2 separate regions of the Homo sapiens genome follow, and region 2 is linked to region 1. Evidence: fine-mapped expression QTL. A gene starts in region 1. The other region holds a variant in brackets. All regions are shown on one strand. Distances are from middle to middle. Region 1 holds the start of DOCK4 (dedicator of cytokinesis 4). Region 2 overlaps DOCK4 (dedicator of cytokinesis 4).

Region 1 (8,343 bases):
TTATTATTTGTCAAGGAAAATACATTTAAAAAACAAACAAAATGCTTCAGTCACTGCCCATGGAGCTCCTACTAGCCAGAGAGAATCAAACAAATTGAGAAAGAGAGGAACCAGCACCTCAGTTCTGGCAGCTTGCCAGGTAGCGTTTGCTTACCTCTGATCTTACTTAAAAACCAAGTGAGATATGTCACAACAAAAGTGTCTCTGTCATAGCAGTCTCAACACAATGAAGATGTTTTTCTAACCAAAGAACACAGTTAGTTGGAAGAGCTCTACAAAATTAGTACCAGGGAAGGCTTTAGTTAACACTTGCCCCAGACGCTGGGACCCAGAAAGGCTAAGTGATTTACCTAAGGTTACACAGCTGGCAGCAGTGTCTAGCCCAGAATCAAGAGCTAACTAGAATCTCCTAAGGTGAAATTGCCTATCACTGTGCCTCTTAACATGATTTCTAAAAGACAAGGTTCCCTGTTCCTCAGAACTATAACTTCATCACTATACCTTTTCCTAAAATCAGAACACTTATGACTGACTTTTCGTTGTTTTAATGAATTTAATCATTCATTAAATGGGACGGTGCCTATACATCAGTTACGAAAAAGAATTTCCATCTCCGATACATTTAATTACAGATATAAAATTTAACTAATTTTACCCATGTTTACAGTATGCTGCTTAAAATTTAATCATAAGTATATAAAAGCATAATTATCTCATACATAAATGAGGGTATATAAAAAGTACCTTTGCAGAAATATATAATTTATACTAAAACGTCACATATTCTGTTACAAAGACTGATTTATTTCAAAGAATGAAGAAACTAAATTACCACTACACTTGGTAACAAAGATCTGTGCCCATAAGATCTTTTCTTTAACATCTGTAAGAACTACATGAGAAAAACACAAACATTAACCAAGGTTAAAAGAAAAAACAAACAACTTGCAATATAAGCAGCTATAAACAGTGCCCTCCATGGTGAAAAATAAAGTCCACACATAAGTATCCTAGCAAAAATTTCACTACACACACACACACACACACACACACACACACACACACACGCCTAACAGATGGATTCTAAAAAACAGCTAAGCATTCCACAATCCAAATGCTCAAAAATTAATAATAAAGGTTAATTAACATTCTGGCACATGTGATATTGAGAACAACAGCAGTAATTTGGGGCAAAAGACCCTCTCTCTGCTCTCGTCCTTCATCTCATTCAACCTCTTTTTCTCAATTGTGAGCACACCCTTCTGCCTCCCCTACTCTGCAATCAAATCACAACCACCCAAAACCGAGGTGTCTGCTGCAGCCCAAAACATTTGACTGATAATATCCGGTTTGCCATTCCAGGAAATCCCAGAGTGGTTTTTAAGCCTCTGCCCACCGCTTGTAAAGAAAGGCAAGAGAGGAACTAATCGATACCAGCACCCCAGCTGTGACCTGGCACATGAAGAAATCAAGAAAATAAATCCCATCCATAATCTGTATAATTTAACACTTGGAAGAAAGCAACATCTGGGATCGACTCCAAGCAGGACAGTTTTGCCTGGATGGATCTGAGCTTCCTGCACTGAGTGTTAAAGCCGCTTAGGAGGCGATGCCCTCGGGTCCCTCACCAGTCCAGCAAAGGGACTATCTTTTTCCCTAGCAAGGGTTAATCTACCTCCCAAAAAAGAGAAGAGTGAGGAGAACGAAAATAACAACTACTAACATCTACTCCTTGCCAGTAAAGAGGCTGGCAAAGACTCCTCTGACACTTTGAAGGAGGGAAAGCTGGAAACCTTTCCCAAAGGTGGGTTCAGGTCAAACTATTGTCTTGGTAATTAGTCACAATCCAGAATGGAAGCTAACGTGAAATGTGGGAATGATTTTGTTGAATCCTACAGTCCTTTCAATGGACCCCAAAGTCCTATCCCCAGGCAAAGTTGGGAAAAAAAAAAACAAAAATCCCCTCGGACTACGACTCCCTGGGAAGGCTTTCCAGATGTTTTAAATTGCAGGAAAATGAATTTAGAACATAAGCAGATATCTACACATCACCTAAATCACTAGACCTGTCCTCAATTTTAAAACACACACACACACACACACACACACAAAGTACACCAGTCGGCAGAACAGGGCATTATAGGAAATAAAGAGTGTTAGTAAAATCCATAATGCTTTCTGTTAGACCTTCTGGGAGGTTATAATTGCATTTGGCCGGCTGCAGCCTTGTCGGAGAGCCTGGCTTCTTAATAGTCTCAACCCTAAAAGGAGTAACTGTCAAGGGGCGACCCAGCTGAAATCAAACAACAAAAACGGGAACTGTAACCCGCCTGAAATGGGAGGAGGAAAAGGAAGGGAGACTCCTGTATTCATCAGTCAACATTAATGTCCTTTGTTGTTCACCTTTACACAGAACAGCGAGAGCTATCCTGTTCCTTTTTCTCCGAACGCCAGTGTCAGGGTATGCTTTCCTAAAAGCTATCTCCCTGCCCCCAAGAACCAGGCTTTCCGATCCCCCTCCCCATTTATCACTCAGCAGCCCTGTACCGCCACACCGCCCCCACTGCGCTCACCCGGGGTCGAGAGGGTGGCCAGAAGTAAAAACACTGCTGAAATACCCGTTCTTCTCCAAAGACCAAAGAACCGAGCGGCGCAGATGTTGAAATTTACCAATGCCCCCGCCCCGCAACATACACACCCCATAAATCCGGGATCGCAGAGAGGGAGGAGGGTCAGAGAGGGCTCAGCTTGTCAGAGCGGCTCTCTCCAGGACCCTGCCACATTCCACACTCCGGGAATGTCGATCCGAGCCAGAGGGAAGGGTTTGCGCCTCCCTACTGTTTTGGGGGTGTTCTCTCTGCCCGAGTGTTGTTGTCTCCCTCTCCACCCAGAGGAACCGTTGCAGCTCCCTGTCGCTTTGGGGAAGAAGGGTAAGGAAGGAGAGAAACCCCATTCGCCTCCTCTTCCAACTTGACACACACACACACACACACACACACGCCCAGTCGCCACTCCAAACTCCGCAGGCAGAGCCCGAAGCTAGCGGGCCGGCCGCGCGCTCCCCCAAGCTGTCCCGGCGCTTCGGGAACCAGTGCGGGGCGCGCCGAGCAGGCGGTGCGGGGCGAGAGCCTGGTGCGCAGCCCTCTGCCTGGAGCTGGCTCGGCAAAGCCCCGTACCAGCTGCGCGATGCCAGGATTAGGCATTTTCAACCGGGCGGAGCGAGAGGGGCGCGGGGGCAAGGACGAGAAATGCGCACTCGCTCGGGCCAGAGCAGAATAAAAGTTCGCCCCGCGGAGACTCACCCACGCCGTATTTCTCGTGCTCCGTAGGTATCCACATGGCTAAAGGGGCTCCGGGGTCTTCAGGCTTTGTAATCCCCGCGCCCCTTCTCCGGCTCACAACAATGCACAGTCCCCGAGCAGCGCTGCAGTGCCGGAGCCCAGCGGCTTCGCGCGGGCTGCGGGCGCTGGGCAGGATCTGCGCTGGAGGCTCCCGAGCCCAGCGTTGACACTGCGCCGCCCGCAGCTCTCCCGGCGGCGGCTGCTCACAGTCCTCCGACGCGCTCCCGGGTACCCGGCGGCGCAGTCATTGTTCTGATTCACTGAACTAAGCGAACACGCCGGGGCACTCTCCGGCGCACCCCCGCCCGCCAGCGCCTAGTCCAGCCCTCCCGTCCCAGGGCCCCGCAGCACGCTGGGAATTGTAGTTCTTGGCCTCCCCATCCCGGAAGTGGGCGCGGCAAATGTGGTTCGGGGCGGGGATTCAGTTTTACTGATTGCGTCCTATTGGTCCAGAGCGCGGCGTAGGTGTGGAGAAAACATTACGTCGACGGGGAGTTCGCCTCCAGTAGCGTTTCTACTGGTGCCACCCCGCCTCCGACCCGCCCTGCGGCCCTCCCTTTTCTTTTCTGCCGGGTAATGGCTGCTTCCAAGACCCAGGGGGCTGTCGCCCGAATGCAGGAAGACCGTGATGGGAGCTGCAGCACAGTCGGGGGTGTAGGTTATGGGGGTGAGTACGGTGCCCCGGAGGCGCGGCTGATGTGTCTTCCTTTCTCTATGACCGGGTGTGCAACGGACCTCTGGTCTGACCCTAGGAGCCCTTCAGCTCTGGGGCCACCTGGGTTCGACTGGGCCCCACGGGTGGTGGCCCAGCGGGATGGGTTGGAGCCGGTGGCGGCTACTTGGTTGGGGCTGCCCGGGGATGGCGGAGAAAATGCCATGGGATGGCGGAGAAAATGCCATGGAATGGCCTTCCCCTCCGCCGGGGAAGCTCCCTGAGCGTTTGTCTTCTGGTTTGGAGCTCCCAGCTTTGAGCTAGCTGCTGAGTGGGTTTGGTTCAGATCTGGTTCGCGCGCGTGTGTTTATAATTTTGGGATTAGCAGCTCTTTCTCCTCACCAGTACACTGCCTTGGTTTGCTTGGTTTGACCTCGCAGGTGTGTTTTATTTAGCTTCCGGAGTATTTCCAGTCGCAGACTGGTGGTCACTGCTCTCCACTCTACAGATTTGCCCAGTTTGTGGCTGAGGTGACCTCTGAAGGGAAAGTGTGTGTATCTCACAACCTCCCTGTAGATGGTTAACTGCTCTGGGTGTTCTTCAGATTTGTATGTGGAGCCTGAGAGATCTTCCCAGTCTCTGGGTCCTTAGAGAAAGAAAAGGAAAGTGATAGATAATTTGCACTCGTGGCTTCAAAGAACATTTGAAAAGAGTTTTGAAAACCATCACAACTTTGGCTGTACCTGACTTTCAGGTTGTCCTCTGATCCACTGTAGGAATAAAAAACCAAATTTTGAAAGCTGCAGGTGGATTGTGTTTAGGACTCTTTTACCTTTAGTCTATCCCTCCCCCATTCCCCCCACCCCATTTTTGTCTTGATGTGTAATTTAGCACAAGTTGTCTTTTTCTGATGAACATGGTTTGGGGCTTAAATATAGTTCTCAGACTGTTGCGACTTTGTTTTTCGATTTATTTGTTTTTGCTTTCACAGTTAAATTGATATCATCTTAAGTATTTACCTCAGCGGCACAGAGTTGAAGTGCAGTTTTTTCCCACTTCCCAACAGTGGAACTCCCTACTCTGAAATTATTTTAGTACCTCTACCAAACAAATCTTTGGTAGTCTCCTGAGTTAAATATTGAATTTAACACCCTAATGGTTTATTTTTGGGTTGGTTATATATTGGGCTATCTGATGGTAACAGACTATTACGGTTTCCTAGATTTTCAAAGTTCCAGAGGGCTACCAGTTTAAGATCTAAACTGGTGAATTTATCTCACAGTCTAACTTATTTTAAAAAATGGCCGGGCACGGTGGCTCACCCCTGTAATACCAGCACTTTGGGAGGCCGAGGCGAGTGGATCACAAGGTCAGGAGTTCGAGACCAGCCTGGCCAATATGGTGAAACCCCGTCTCTACTAAAAATACAAAAATTAGCCGGGCGTGGTGGCGGATGCCTGTAGTCCCAGCTACTCGGGAGGCCGAGGCAGGAGAATCCCTTGAGCCCGGGAGGCGGAGGTTGTGGTGAGCCATGATCCACCACTGCACTCCAGCCTGGGAGGCAGAGCAAGACTCTGTATCAAAAACAAAACAAAAAAAAAGGATATGCCTTTCAAAAATGTAAAATATTTAAAAATATTTATTTTTAAATTTTACAAGTTTAAAAGTTTTTAAAAGCACTTCAAACCATTCAGAAGTGTATGAAGTAAAAAAAATGAAAATTCCCTCACCTCACAGCACCACTCCCCGAGTATTAAGTGATAAGAGTTTGGTACATATTCTTTCCAACATATTCTTCTTCTTCTTTTTTTTTTTTTAATCCTACAATCCGTATTCTGTTAAACCACCATATTCTTATATGACACACGTCTGTATGATTTGATTTTTTTTTTTTTTTTTTTTTTTTGAGACGGAGTCTCGCTTTGTCAACCAGGCTGGAGTGCAGTGGCGCGATCTCGGCTCACTGCAAGCTCCGCCTCCCAGGTTCACGCCATTCTCCTGCCTCAGCCTCCCGAGTAACTGGGACTACAGGCGCCAGCCAACAAGCCCGGCTAGTTTTTTGTATTTTTAGTAGAGACGGGGTTTCACCGTGTTAGCCAGGAGGTCTCGATCTGCTGACCTCGTGATCCGCCCGTCTCGGCCTCCCAAAGTGCTGGGATTACAGGCGTAAGCCACCGCGCCCGGCCTATGATTTGATTTTTATAATAAAAAGGGATAAATCTATATAAACTGAAAGATCTGCAACCTTCTTTTTTCTTTCAGCAGTCTATCATAGAAACCCTTCCACGTCAGTACATTTGTTTCCTTTTTTTTTAAGGACTGTGCCCATCATATTCCAAAATATGATTGTGCCATTCTTTATCCATTCCCTTATAAATGAACATATAGTGTGACTTTAGTTTTTCAGTAATGTTGCAATGAACAACTTTATGTACATATATTCTTGCCCACTGGTTGTATATTTTGGGAGAAAATTGCTGGATCAAAGGTTATGCAAGTTTAAAATTTTGACAGATGCCAGACTTTCCTCTTAAAATATATTCAGCATACATTGCCACCTGTAGTATATGAGTGTTCTTTCCCCCATATTGTCACAAACTTTGAGGAAATAATCCAGGACCAATGTTTCAATGACTAGTAGATTGAATTAAGTAACTGATAGAAAGCTTAGTTTTTGATTCCAGTTTGTTTTCAATAAAAGTGTTGAGTAGTAGTGAATTTGCGGTATCTATAACATAAAAAAATTTCTCACCCTCGGTGAGAAATACCCAGTATTCTCATTGACTTGTAGCAGTCAACAGGAGAAATTAATGGTTGATTTTTTATGTCATTTTTATAAGATAAAGTTGTCATTAAAAATTCTGCTTAATAACCTATGTATCATTCTGTTACTTTTTCCAAAATCTTTTCAAAGCCAACAAGGTGTGATATAAATTTTAGGTGTAAATATTTATATTAAAAGTATATTTTTTGTTAGGCAGTCATTTAGGTTATCAAGTATGTCTTTCCCTGTAAAAATCATACACCTTTTTGGATGAGTTCATGTCCTTTGTAGGGACATGGATGAAGCTGAAAACCATCATTGTGAGCAAACTATCGCAAGGACAGAAAACCAAACACCACATGTTCTCACTTATAGGTGGAAATTGAACAATGAGAACACTTGGACACAGGGCAGGGAACATCACATACCCGGGCCTGTCGTGGGGTTGGGGGATGGGGAAGGGATAGCATTAGGAGAAATACCTAATGTAAATGACGAGTTAATGGGTGCAGCAAACCAATATGGCACATGTATACATATGCAACAAACCTCCAAGTTGTGCACATGTACCCTGGAACTTAAAGTATAATAAAAATAAAATTTTTAAAAAACATACACCTTTTTGACTTCTTGAAAACTGCTTCTTTTAAGAGATTTTCTTCTTGCTCTGATTAAAATGTTAGTCTGTGTGTTTAATACCCTGGGACAGTGAGGCCTAGGAAGACTTTTTATAGAAATCCTTGCAATTCCTCAAAATCTCTGCTAGAGTGAGTCAGTGGGTGGGGTGCAGGCAGGTGCAACACTCACTGAGACCACTGTGTTGCCAGACTTCTGTGGCTCCATCCTTCTCCAAGAAAGTCCCCACATTGAGGTCAAGGATTTTTTTGCTTTTTTTGTTTTTGTTTTTTGTTTTTTTTTTTTGTTTTTTTTTTTGAGACAGAGTCCTGCTCTGTAACCCAAGCTGGAGTGGAGTGGCACGATCTCAGCTCACTGCAACCTCCGCCTCCCGGGTTCAAGTGATTCTCCTGCCACAGCCTCCCGAGTAGCTGGGATTACAGGCGTGTGCCACCATGCCCAGCTAATTTTTATATTTTTAGTAGAGACAGAGTTTCGCCATCTAGGCCAGGCTGGTCTCAAACTCCTGACCACAGGTGATCCACCCTCCTCGGCCTCCCAAAGTGCTGGGATTACAGGCGTGAGCTACTGCACCTGGCACACTAGGTCAAGGGTTAAAGGACACTGCTTTACATACATCTGAACAGTAACCAGAATTTCAATTTGTCTCCTAAAATTAAGAACAGATAATAAATAGATTCAGCATCCCTCACGTGGTGTCATTGGCATTTGTTCTTTTGCTGTTTTTAAAAATCAGCAAGGTAGCACAATTCAGTAATAATACATTTAGGAGGCTTTTGTGACTGAGGCTATTTCTTCTGAGTATTAATCTGTATCTCCATATTGTAATATTCTGTCAAAGTCAACTTTTTTCCCTCCGAATGGGTGTTTAGTAGTTGATGATTTTGCTAATGCTTGGATTCTGGACCTTATTATCTGATGATTTTGGTAATGTTTATCTTCCAGAGAAC
Region 2 (8,343 bases), 120 kb before region 1:
ACAGTACTTGCTGAGACATTTTATATCAGAAACAACTGAGATTGGTAGTGCTATTCATGTATCTGAAAAATATATAATTTTTTAAACTTGGTAAAATCCTACCCATATGACTTAGCTAGAAATAAATTTTAAATTAAAGTATCATTTATTCTAGAATGTATTTAAATAAAAACCACTTTATTACTTTTAATGTATTATGGAGATGGTCAATTTAAAGTCCACTGGGTCTACTTTTTGAATAGATTAAGCACACTTGAAATTAGCACTAATTATAATTAGCATTAATTGTAGCCCCAAATAAATATTCTAATTTTAATAATGTACTTCTTTTCAGAGGGTTCACAACATAAATTTTATAAATAATCCCTTTATCCATAAATTGCACTAAGGTAAAGTAAATTTCAATGTAGTTTAGGCAGATTAATTATGAATTAGGAATCAGTAGAATTTTTTATTAATATGATCTTAACATAGTTGAAAATAATTTTATTTGATATGTGAATACCATCACAATTGCCTCAGGCTCTCACATCTATCATCTCCATTGGTTTTACATAAAAGTACCTAGAGATTAGGTAATTTTCCCCTAGTTGTTCTGTGAGTTGGTTATAGATATAAGATTAGAATATAAAATATAGAATTAATAGTATAACGTATGACCCAGTTACTATAACATAATGAATTAACCTCTGTTTCCTAGAAGTTTTTATCTTTACATGTTGAGCTTAACCCCTCATACCCAGAAGTCAAATTTCTGGCAACATCTCTAATTCTTTTTGGAACAAAATGATTAAGGTAAATAAAATAAAATAAAATAAAAGGCCACCAAACATCCAAAATAGCTATGAAAACAAAGCTTCACTCCCCAGAAGGCCTTAAAATCTTCATGTAGAATTTATCTTTACCTGAACACAATTTTTAAAAGACATGGTTTTCCGTGGCACAGAATGAACAAGATGAAAAGTCAGAACTGATGGCAGGGATATTAAAGATATGAATAATAACTACATATAGTATGGAACCTTGTTAGAGGATCATACCAAAGGCTTAGTTTAGTACGGTAAATTAGATTGGTATTTGGCAAATAATCACTTTTCCCTAACCACCTCATGGAATAAGTATACTTCCCTGCTCTGCTGTTAGGCTTAGTGATTGACTTACTTTGACCAACGGAATGGAATCAGATGTGATTCCAGTTGACAGCTGAAGTGCGCTTGCACAGTTGGGCTAACACTCTTGTACTCCTACCACGACCATAGGAATAGCTTCGCTGGTTTGCTTCCTTCAGACTGGGCCCTCAAAATAAACATTTCTGGAACAGACCTAAGCTTAATCCACAGTGAGGACCTAAACCCAGACAGGCCTGCAGCATGAAGTAGAGTCATGCCGTCAGGCCTGGCCCAGAACATGCCCAGCCAATCTCTATCACAGAGAGTGAGAATGAATGAAAATTAGTTTAAGCCACTGAGTTGTGGAATTGATTTTTATGGAGCAACAGCTGACTGATGCAATCATAAAGAAAAAGTGAAAAGATGTTTAAATTGCTTCCGCTTAAAACCATTACATTTCAGTACAATTTATATCAGCAGCTACTAAAATATTTGAATGTTTAGTGTTTGAATTTCAGCTGACTAGAAAATTTCATTTATACAGAGAGCATCCCAAAGCCACTACTTAGCAGCATGATACATGGATCTTAGAAGTTGTGTGTCCAGCAAAAGGGAATGAGCATTTTCTTTAAATAAAGTCTGCTTAGCTTTGCTGAACAGTTCTACCAGACCCTCAGTTAATATACTTTCATCTGAGGTTTCATGCTGCTGACTAGCAATAAGAAACAGTCACATGATGCTTGGGCTGAGAAAATGTTTCAGTTCCCACAAATAGAGCAATGCAGGAAATTTCAAGACATGCATAATGAAAACGAAAGAAAATCCTTGTTTTCTTAGAAAATCTCCCTTCATGTTTGTACAGAGTGAAGTAACAGATATCCAGATTTAATGCCAAATCACAGTGACATGACTTGTTACCATTGTTATGCTACCATTACAAGGCACTTCCCGTGTGACCGGCTTTCTGCTGGGTGTTTTCACCATTATCACTTCAAGTTAACCACACAACTATTCCAAAAGGAAGGTATTATTACCATGTATGTGTACTTTAGAAAATGAAAAAACTAAAACATACAGAACATAAGTTACTTGGCCAAGTTGTATGGCTTGGAAGTGGTCAAGCAGGAATTTGGAGCGAGGGCTGTCTGACTTCAGAACAGTGCTCTTACTATATCCCATTCTATGAGAAAATTGTTCTAGTATATTCACTTCAACATCAGAAACTGCCACACAGATCATATCACAAAGCCATCTTCTAATCTTTTCTCCTCAAAATGAAGAGATTTAACATGGTAACATTTGGCAAAGAACTTCATAGCTTCCCCTCAGTCCCACAATATTTGCTTGAATCAAAGGGTCAGGATGCTCAAGAGAGCAATTTCAAATTATCTTTCATAAACCAGTAAACAAGATTAGAGATTTTAAATCCATAGCCCATCAAAAACTGATTTGGCTGTGTCAAAAAGAAACAGAGGTCAAAGTGACCTAAGATAGGGCAATTTAAGAGGAAAAAAATGCACTAGATTGAAAGACATCTAATATATAAAAACTCATGAGTTCATAATGATACTAATGAGAAAATTTCAATGATTCATTACTGCCGGTTGCCAGGGTACAAATTTATGATTCCAAAAAGTTATAAATAAGGAGAAAGTATCAAGCATTTATCTTACCTTTCCTGTAAAAAGTGTATTTCAAGGTAATCAAGTAGCAGATGGGTAGAAGTTCTTTATGGAAGAATTCACCCAATAAATGTACAAGAAATGACAGAATCACAATGAGAAAACTAAGATTTTCCTAATTCCTAAGATAAATAATGGATCTTGACAGTGATCATCAATGGATGCTAAATCCATCAGGGAAAGCTTGATAGAGAACTTTCAAATGGGATCGGGCTGACAGCATTTGAACTTGCTGATCTAGGTATCTTCAGCAGTGTCCCTGGAAGAGGCACAGGCAGACAACAAGTCTCTCTTGCAGAAAAAAAGACACAGCCCCAGCTATGAGACATTTTTGCCAAAAAAAGCAAATAAACAGACCAGAGTCTAATCAAGTCTCTGGAGCTAACAAGTACATCCTTGAAACATTGTAATATGGGCTGGCTGTATAGGATATTAATTCTTGAAATGATTACTCCTTATGTTACATGTCATGACAATTTGGTTAAAAAAATCCTCGGAAATGTATACTGGAGTATTTTGAGGTAATATAACACCATATTTAGGATTTGCTTAAATGTACTACAGGAAAAAGAAAGATCAGACATGGATAAGATTGGCAAAATGTGGATAATTTTTGAAGTTCAAAAAATACATGAATATATAGTACGTTATCTTTGTACACCTTTGTGTACAAATTTCCACAATAAATAAGGCAGAAAGGGAAATCCAGAAAAACTAGCTCACCACAGTT[C/A]ATGCCCATTTAAATATAGGGACCATAAGTCGTGCACCAGTTAACGTCTGTGTCTGTCTGTTCTCTCTTTCTTCTCTTTATTCTTTAGAATTATAGTTTCTATATTAAATAGCTAAGTTTGGGAAAGGTTTTGTTTTCTTAACAGGAGAGTCAATGAAACAGAAAACGTTTTAAAATCAGAACCGAGAGCACCAAAATTCATTAACTCAATAAATACTTATTAAGTACCTACCTTCTCCTTACTGTCAAAACTCAAAGCTGTGGCAATACAGCAGTGTATGAGACACAGGTTCCTCCTGTTAAAACAGTGGTTGCCAAAAATCTAGCAAATGTTGGTTTCCCATTAGGATCAGAAGTAAGGATGTGGTAACAGAGGCAATTTCCAAAATCAACTCGGGCATGTAAAATGTCAATAAAACCCAACTCTGAAGTCACATCTAACCGATTCTGACAGAGTTTTACGCTGAGCCAAGGCCATCCTGCCCAAGCACACTAAATGTTGACTCTGAAGCACATGTAGGGGAATTAAACAGTAACCAAGGATTGGAAGGGAATTTTGTCACAGTTTACACAGTCAGTAGCACCAGGATAGAAAAGCAAAGGCACCTAGGAGAATTGGAAAATTCTGTCACTACCAGCACCCCCACCACCCCTGAAAAAACAAATCAGAAAAAGACAGGATTTTAATGAATAACCTTGCATGCTGAACCCTGGGTAAGAAGGAAGAAAAGACAGAAAAACTGAGATAACCCTCAGGAGTCTCAGAGTTCTATATTTTGTGGTGCAGACAGGGCAGCTCACCAGGCTAGGGCTGTGGTGAGCTATTTCCTTTTTTAACATTCCAAGATGCCAATATAGATGATGTCCTTCTCCAGGTACCCATTTCTCTTTTCAACACCTGTAGTTCTTGATTAATTAATTCAATCAGGACAGACTTATGTATTAACTGTACACTTTCTTGACAACCCCTTCTGACACTCAGGTGCCTAATGTAGGCCATCTCTTCTTCAGCTGCTAGGTAATACATACCCCTGTTTTTATGGAATCAATATAACATAAGGATTCCCTGGCCAAACTTGAAAATTATCTTTAGATTTAGATTTGTTCTGTTTTGAAAGACACGTATGGAAATGCTTATTTGCACACAAATAGACATCCTCATAAAACTGCCCAAATTCACTGAAGACGCCTATATAAACATGATAGTCTTCAGATTCAATAATGACAAAGCAAAATATCCTGCAGCTCTGGAATGTACCCTTAAAGTATAAAGTGTCAAAAACAAATAATAAAATGTCTAGGAAAAAAATGAGAGATTTAAGCTTTGAATTTTTTCCTTGAAGAAAAGAAAAAAAGATATCGTTATCTAAAATACTATGTACCCTGAGACAAAACTGTCAGACAGCTTCATTTTGGGTTATCTCCTAAATAGAGTCTCACTTTTCCCTAAGCCTTTCTCTCCAGTCCCACTCAGAAATGGGTATCTAACTCCTGAGACCTAGACCATCATATTAACATTGTATTGGGACCATTTGTCAATTATGGGACAAAGGAGACACATCGTGAATGAAATACAGCCCTGTTTAGACATCTCTAACAGATCCATGGAGTGGCATGCAGGTGGGAGATTTGTAATTACTACTCCAACACAAGGTGTTAAAAAATATGATAGAAATAGTCAAAAATACAGTGGTGTCCCTAGCAAGAGGTACATACCCAACAGTGGTGAAGGGGAGTAGATTTTTAAATAAATAGGCTGGAAAGGCAGTAGACAAGCAGGAAACCAGTGGGATCGTGGGACAAGGTCCCGTATGAGACCTCGCATGCAGACAGGGAGCACAACTAGGTGAGTTTTCAGGCAAAAGCATAGAAGCATAAAATCACATCTTCAGGCAGGTCACACTGTTGGCTGGAGGATCAGTTTTAGAGTGAAGTTTTAATACATGGTCATTCTTCTTCAAGTTTAAACACTCAGTCCATGGCTAGATAAACCACCAGATAATAAACAGAATTACAAAGCCTTTTTAAATGTGTTCTTTTGGCAACTGAAATATCCCCTTTTAATTCTTTGAAAGGTTAGATGTTTATAGATAAAAAAATGTATCTCCTATATAATTAATGGATTTTCTTATCCTCTTTTGGAAAACATGTAAGACAATACTTATTTGCACACATATATACATACACATAGAAACACCCAAACTCCTAAGTGAAAATTTCTGTACATATCCAAGTCTTCATATTCAGTAGTGATAAAATCATGATTAAAGCAGCCAGTATGACCTCTTGTTTTTTTTCTATTAGTACTATGGGAAAGAGCACAGAGCTTAAACATGTGCTAAGTCACTTATTAGCTTTGAGTCCCCTTGGCAAGTTTCCACTCATTTAGTTTCCTATCGGGCAGGATTGTGTTAACTGGGGCAGGAGAGCCTTATGGTGAACATCAAACATTCTAGAGTTGCACTGCTGAGAATGTATCCTAGCTCTGCCACTTAGTTGCTCTGTGCCCTTAGGAAGGTTCCTTAACCCCTTTGTCCCTCAGTTTCCTCATCTATAAAATGGGGATAACACTAGTATCTACCACCTCATAGTGTGACTGAAAGGATTAATTAAGTAATGCATTTAAAGAGCTTACAGTAACAGCTGGCAGGCAGTAAGTGCTCAATACGTTGTCAATGCTTGTTTTTATATGTTGTCAACGTAAAAGACACACTGGATTTCGAAGACTTGGGTCCAAAAAAGAATATAAAATACCTAATTAATAATTGTTATGAAATGACAATATTTTAGATATACTGTGTTAAATATAATGTCAAAATTAATTTTGCCTATTTTTCCCTTTTTTTACTTGTTAAAGTTCTTTTTACTGTGGCTGTTATAAAATTTAAAATTATATGTGTGACTTGCATTTCATTTTTATTGGCCAGGGATGCTCCAGAAGGTTGATGCCTGAAACTAGAGATCCATTACCTTTCCTCCTTTCTAGGGCTTCAAATTAGGTTTTAATTTAAGAACACCTTTGCTATATATAATCAATACAAAAAACTTTACCCACTTATTGTACTTTGCCCTGTTGACACTGACCTCCCATTCTCCACCAGAAGAAATAATCAAACCCATCACCAACAAATCACCCATCCATTATTCAATTTTTATAAATATCTTAGTTACAGTTTTTCACTTAATGACCTTTCAAGGATATACAACTTAAAACCAATGACTTTAACTTATATCCAGAAGTCCTTCCAAAGGACATATGAATCAAATACTAAATTACGGTTTGGTGTTTGATATGGTTTGGATTTGTGTCCCTGCCCATATCTCATGTTGAACTGTAATCTCCTAGTGGGAGATGACTGGATCATGGGGATGGATTTCCTCCTTATTGTTCTGATGATAGTGAGTGAGTTCTCATGAGATCTGGTTGTTTAAAGGCATGTAGCACCTCCCCCTTCTCGCTCTTCCTCCTGCTCCAGCAATGTAAGTCGTGCCTGCTTCCCCTTCCGCCATGATGAAAGTTTCCTGAGGACTCCCCAGCCACACTTCCTGTACAGCCTGCAGAATCATGGGCCAATTAAACTTCTTTTTTTAAATAAATTACCCAGTTTCAGGTGTTTCTTTATAGCAGTGTGAGAATTGACTAATACAGTGTTAAATGCATTCATTGAACTAATCCAAATCTTGAAAGCTGGCATCAGTTTTTGCTAACTGAGATTTCCAAATCAAGGTTTATGGTGTCAACTGAAGAATCACAAAATATTCTTAAGACCCTCTTTCTGGAGATTCTAAGTTAGTCTTTCAAGGATAAGCCCCTGGAACTTCTATTTTAGCTTTTAGTCTCAAGGTAAAGATAGCATGAATCAATCACACAAATAAATGCATAATTATCATGGGTGATATGTGCTATAAAGGAAAATTATATGGTATCATTAGAGGTTCTAAAAAGATAAATAAATTATAAAATAAGATATCAAAATCTGAACTCTGTCAGCTAAATTGATTCTAATTATATTTTGAGATTGGGGGGAAGAAATTATGCATTTAGACATTCTGTACAATATAGAGTTATGGATTAAGATCCTGTAATAATTTTGAGATATAAACATATTTTCACAAGTAAAAACTATATGAAAGCTAAACAGAAAAAGTCAATTCACCTCTAACATTGCAAAAATATCTGTTTAGACAAACCATTCTTATCTATTTCTGAAATAATCTAGTCATCTGCATATGTAAGTAACCATATTTTATAACCTGGAAAAACAGGAGACTCTATGATCTTTTTAAAGTTGAAAACTACATTGCAGTAAGGGCAAATTGGTTAGGTTTTGAAAAGGTTAAATATACAAGCTCATTTTTGAAAGATTAGACAGATTATTTTTCATGGAAAGAAGCAAACAACATATTTTGATTCTATAAACTATATTCTGGGTAAGCTATAAACATAGTGCCTGGAGCAAAGAATCACAATAAACATGCACTGAATGGATGGGCAAACTGTGACCATTGAGACAGAATTTCAGAACTGGAGATCTTTTAATTTAACTCTTCATTTTATGGGTAAATCAATTGCAGTTCAGGGTAATAACGTTATTTGGCTCAAAGAGCTAGAAGTGGCAGGGGGAGCACCAGATTTTCTGTCTCCAGATTCCTAGGCAGGGACCCCCTGACTCTACCGGGCTCACATTCACCAAACACCTTAACCCTCAGGCACACCCACAAAGGTCTGTTTACGAATCATCAGTGGTGGCACAAACATTAGACTGAAGAGGTACTGTTCAAATAGAGCCCTCCAAGGTAAAGGAAGGTCTCTCATCTTTGT

What was found. PIP is the estimated chance that this variant, and not a neighbour inherited with it, causes the effect.
Region 2: its variant is fine-mapped to the expression of DOCK4 in whole blood (TOPMed, PIP 0.98).

The regions. Positions count from the first base shown.
Region 1 is chr7:112,202,800-112,211,142 of GRCh38, forward strand. DOCK4 (dedicator of cytokinesis 4) reads right to left here and starts at 3,600. Exons shown (of 53, transcript NM_001363540.2): 1 at 3,303-3,600. The coding sequence starts at 3,339. It overlaps ZNF277 (zinc finger protein 277), which reads left to right and starts at 3,896. Exons shown (of 12, transcript NM_021994.3): 1 at 3,896-4,008. The coding sequence starts at 3,918. RefSeq lists a silencer at 3,472-3,821 and an enhancer at 3,992-4,111.
Region 2 is chr7:112,082,761-112,091,103 of GRCh38, forward strand. The region is part of intron 1 of DOCK4 (dedicator of cytokinesis 4); the gene reads right to left. Among named protein-coding and RNA genes, the nearest start is that of DOCK4, 120 kb to the right of the region's middle. RefSeq lists an enhancer at 1,729-1,828. The variant C/A (reference allele first, on the strand shown) is at 3,522.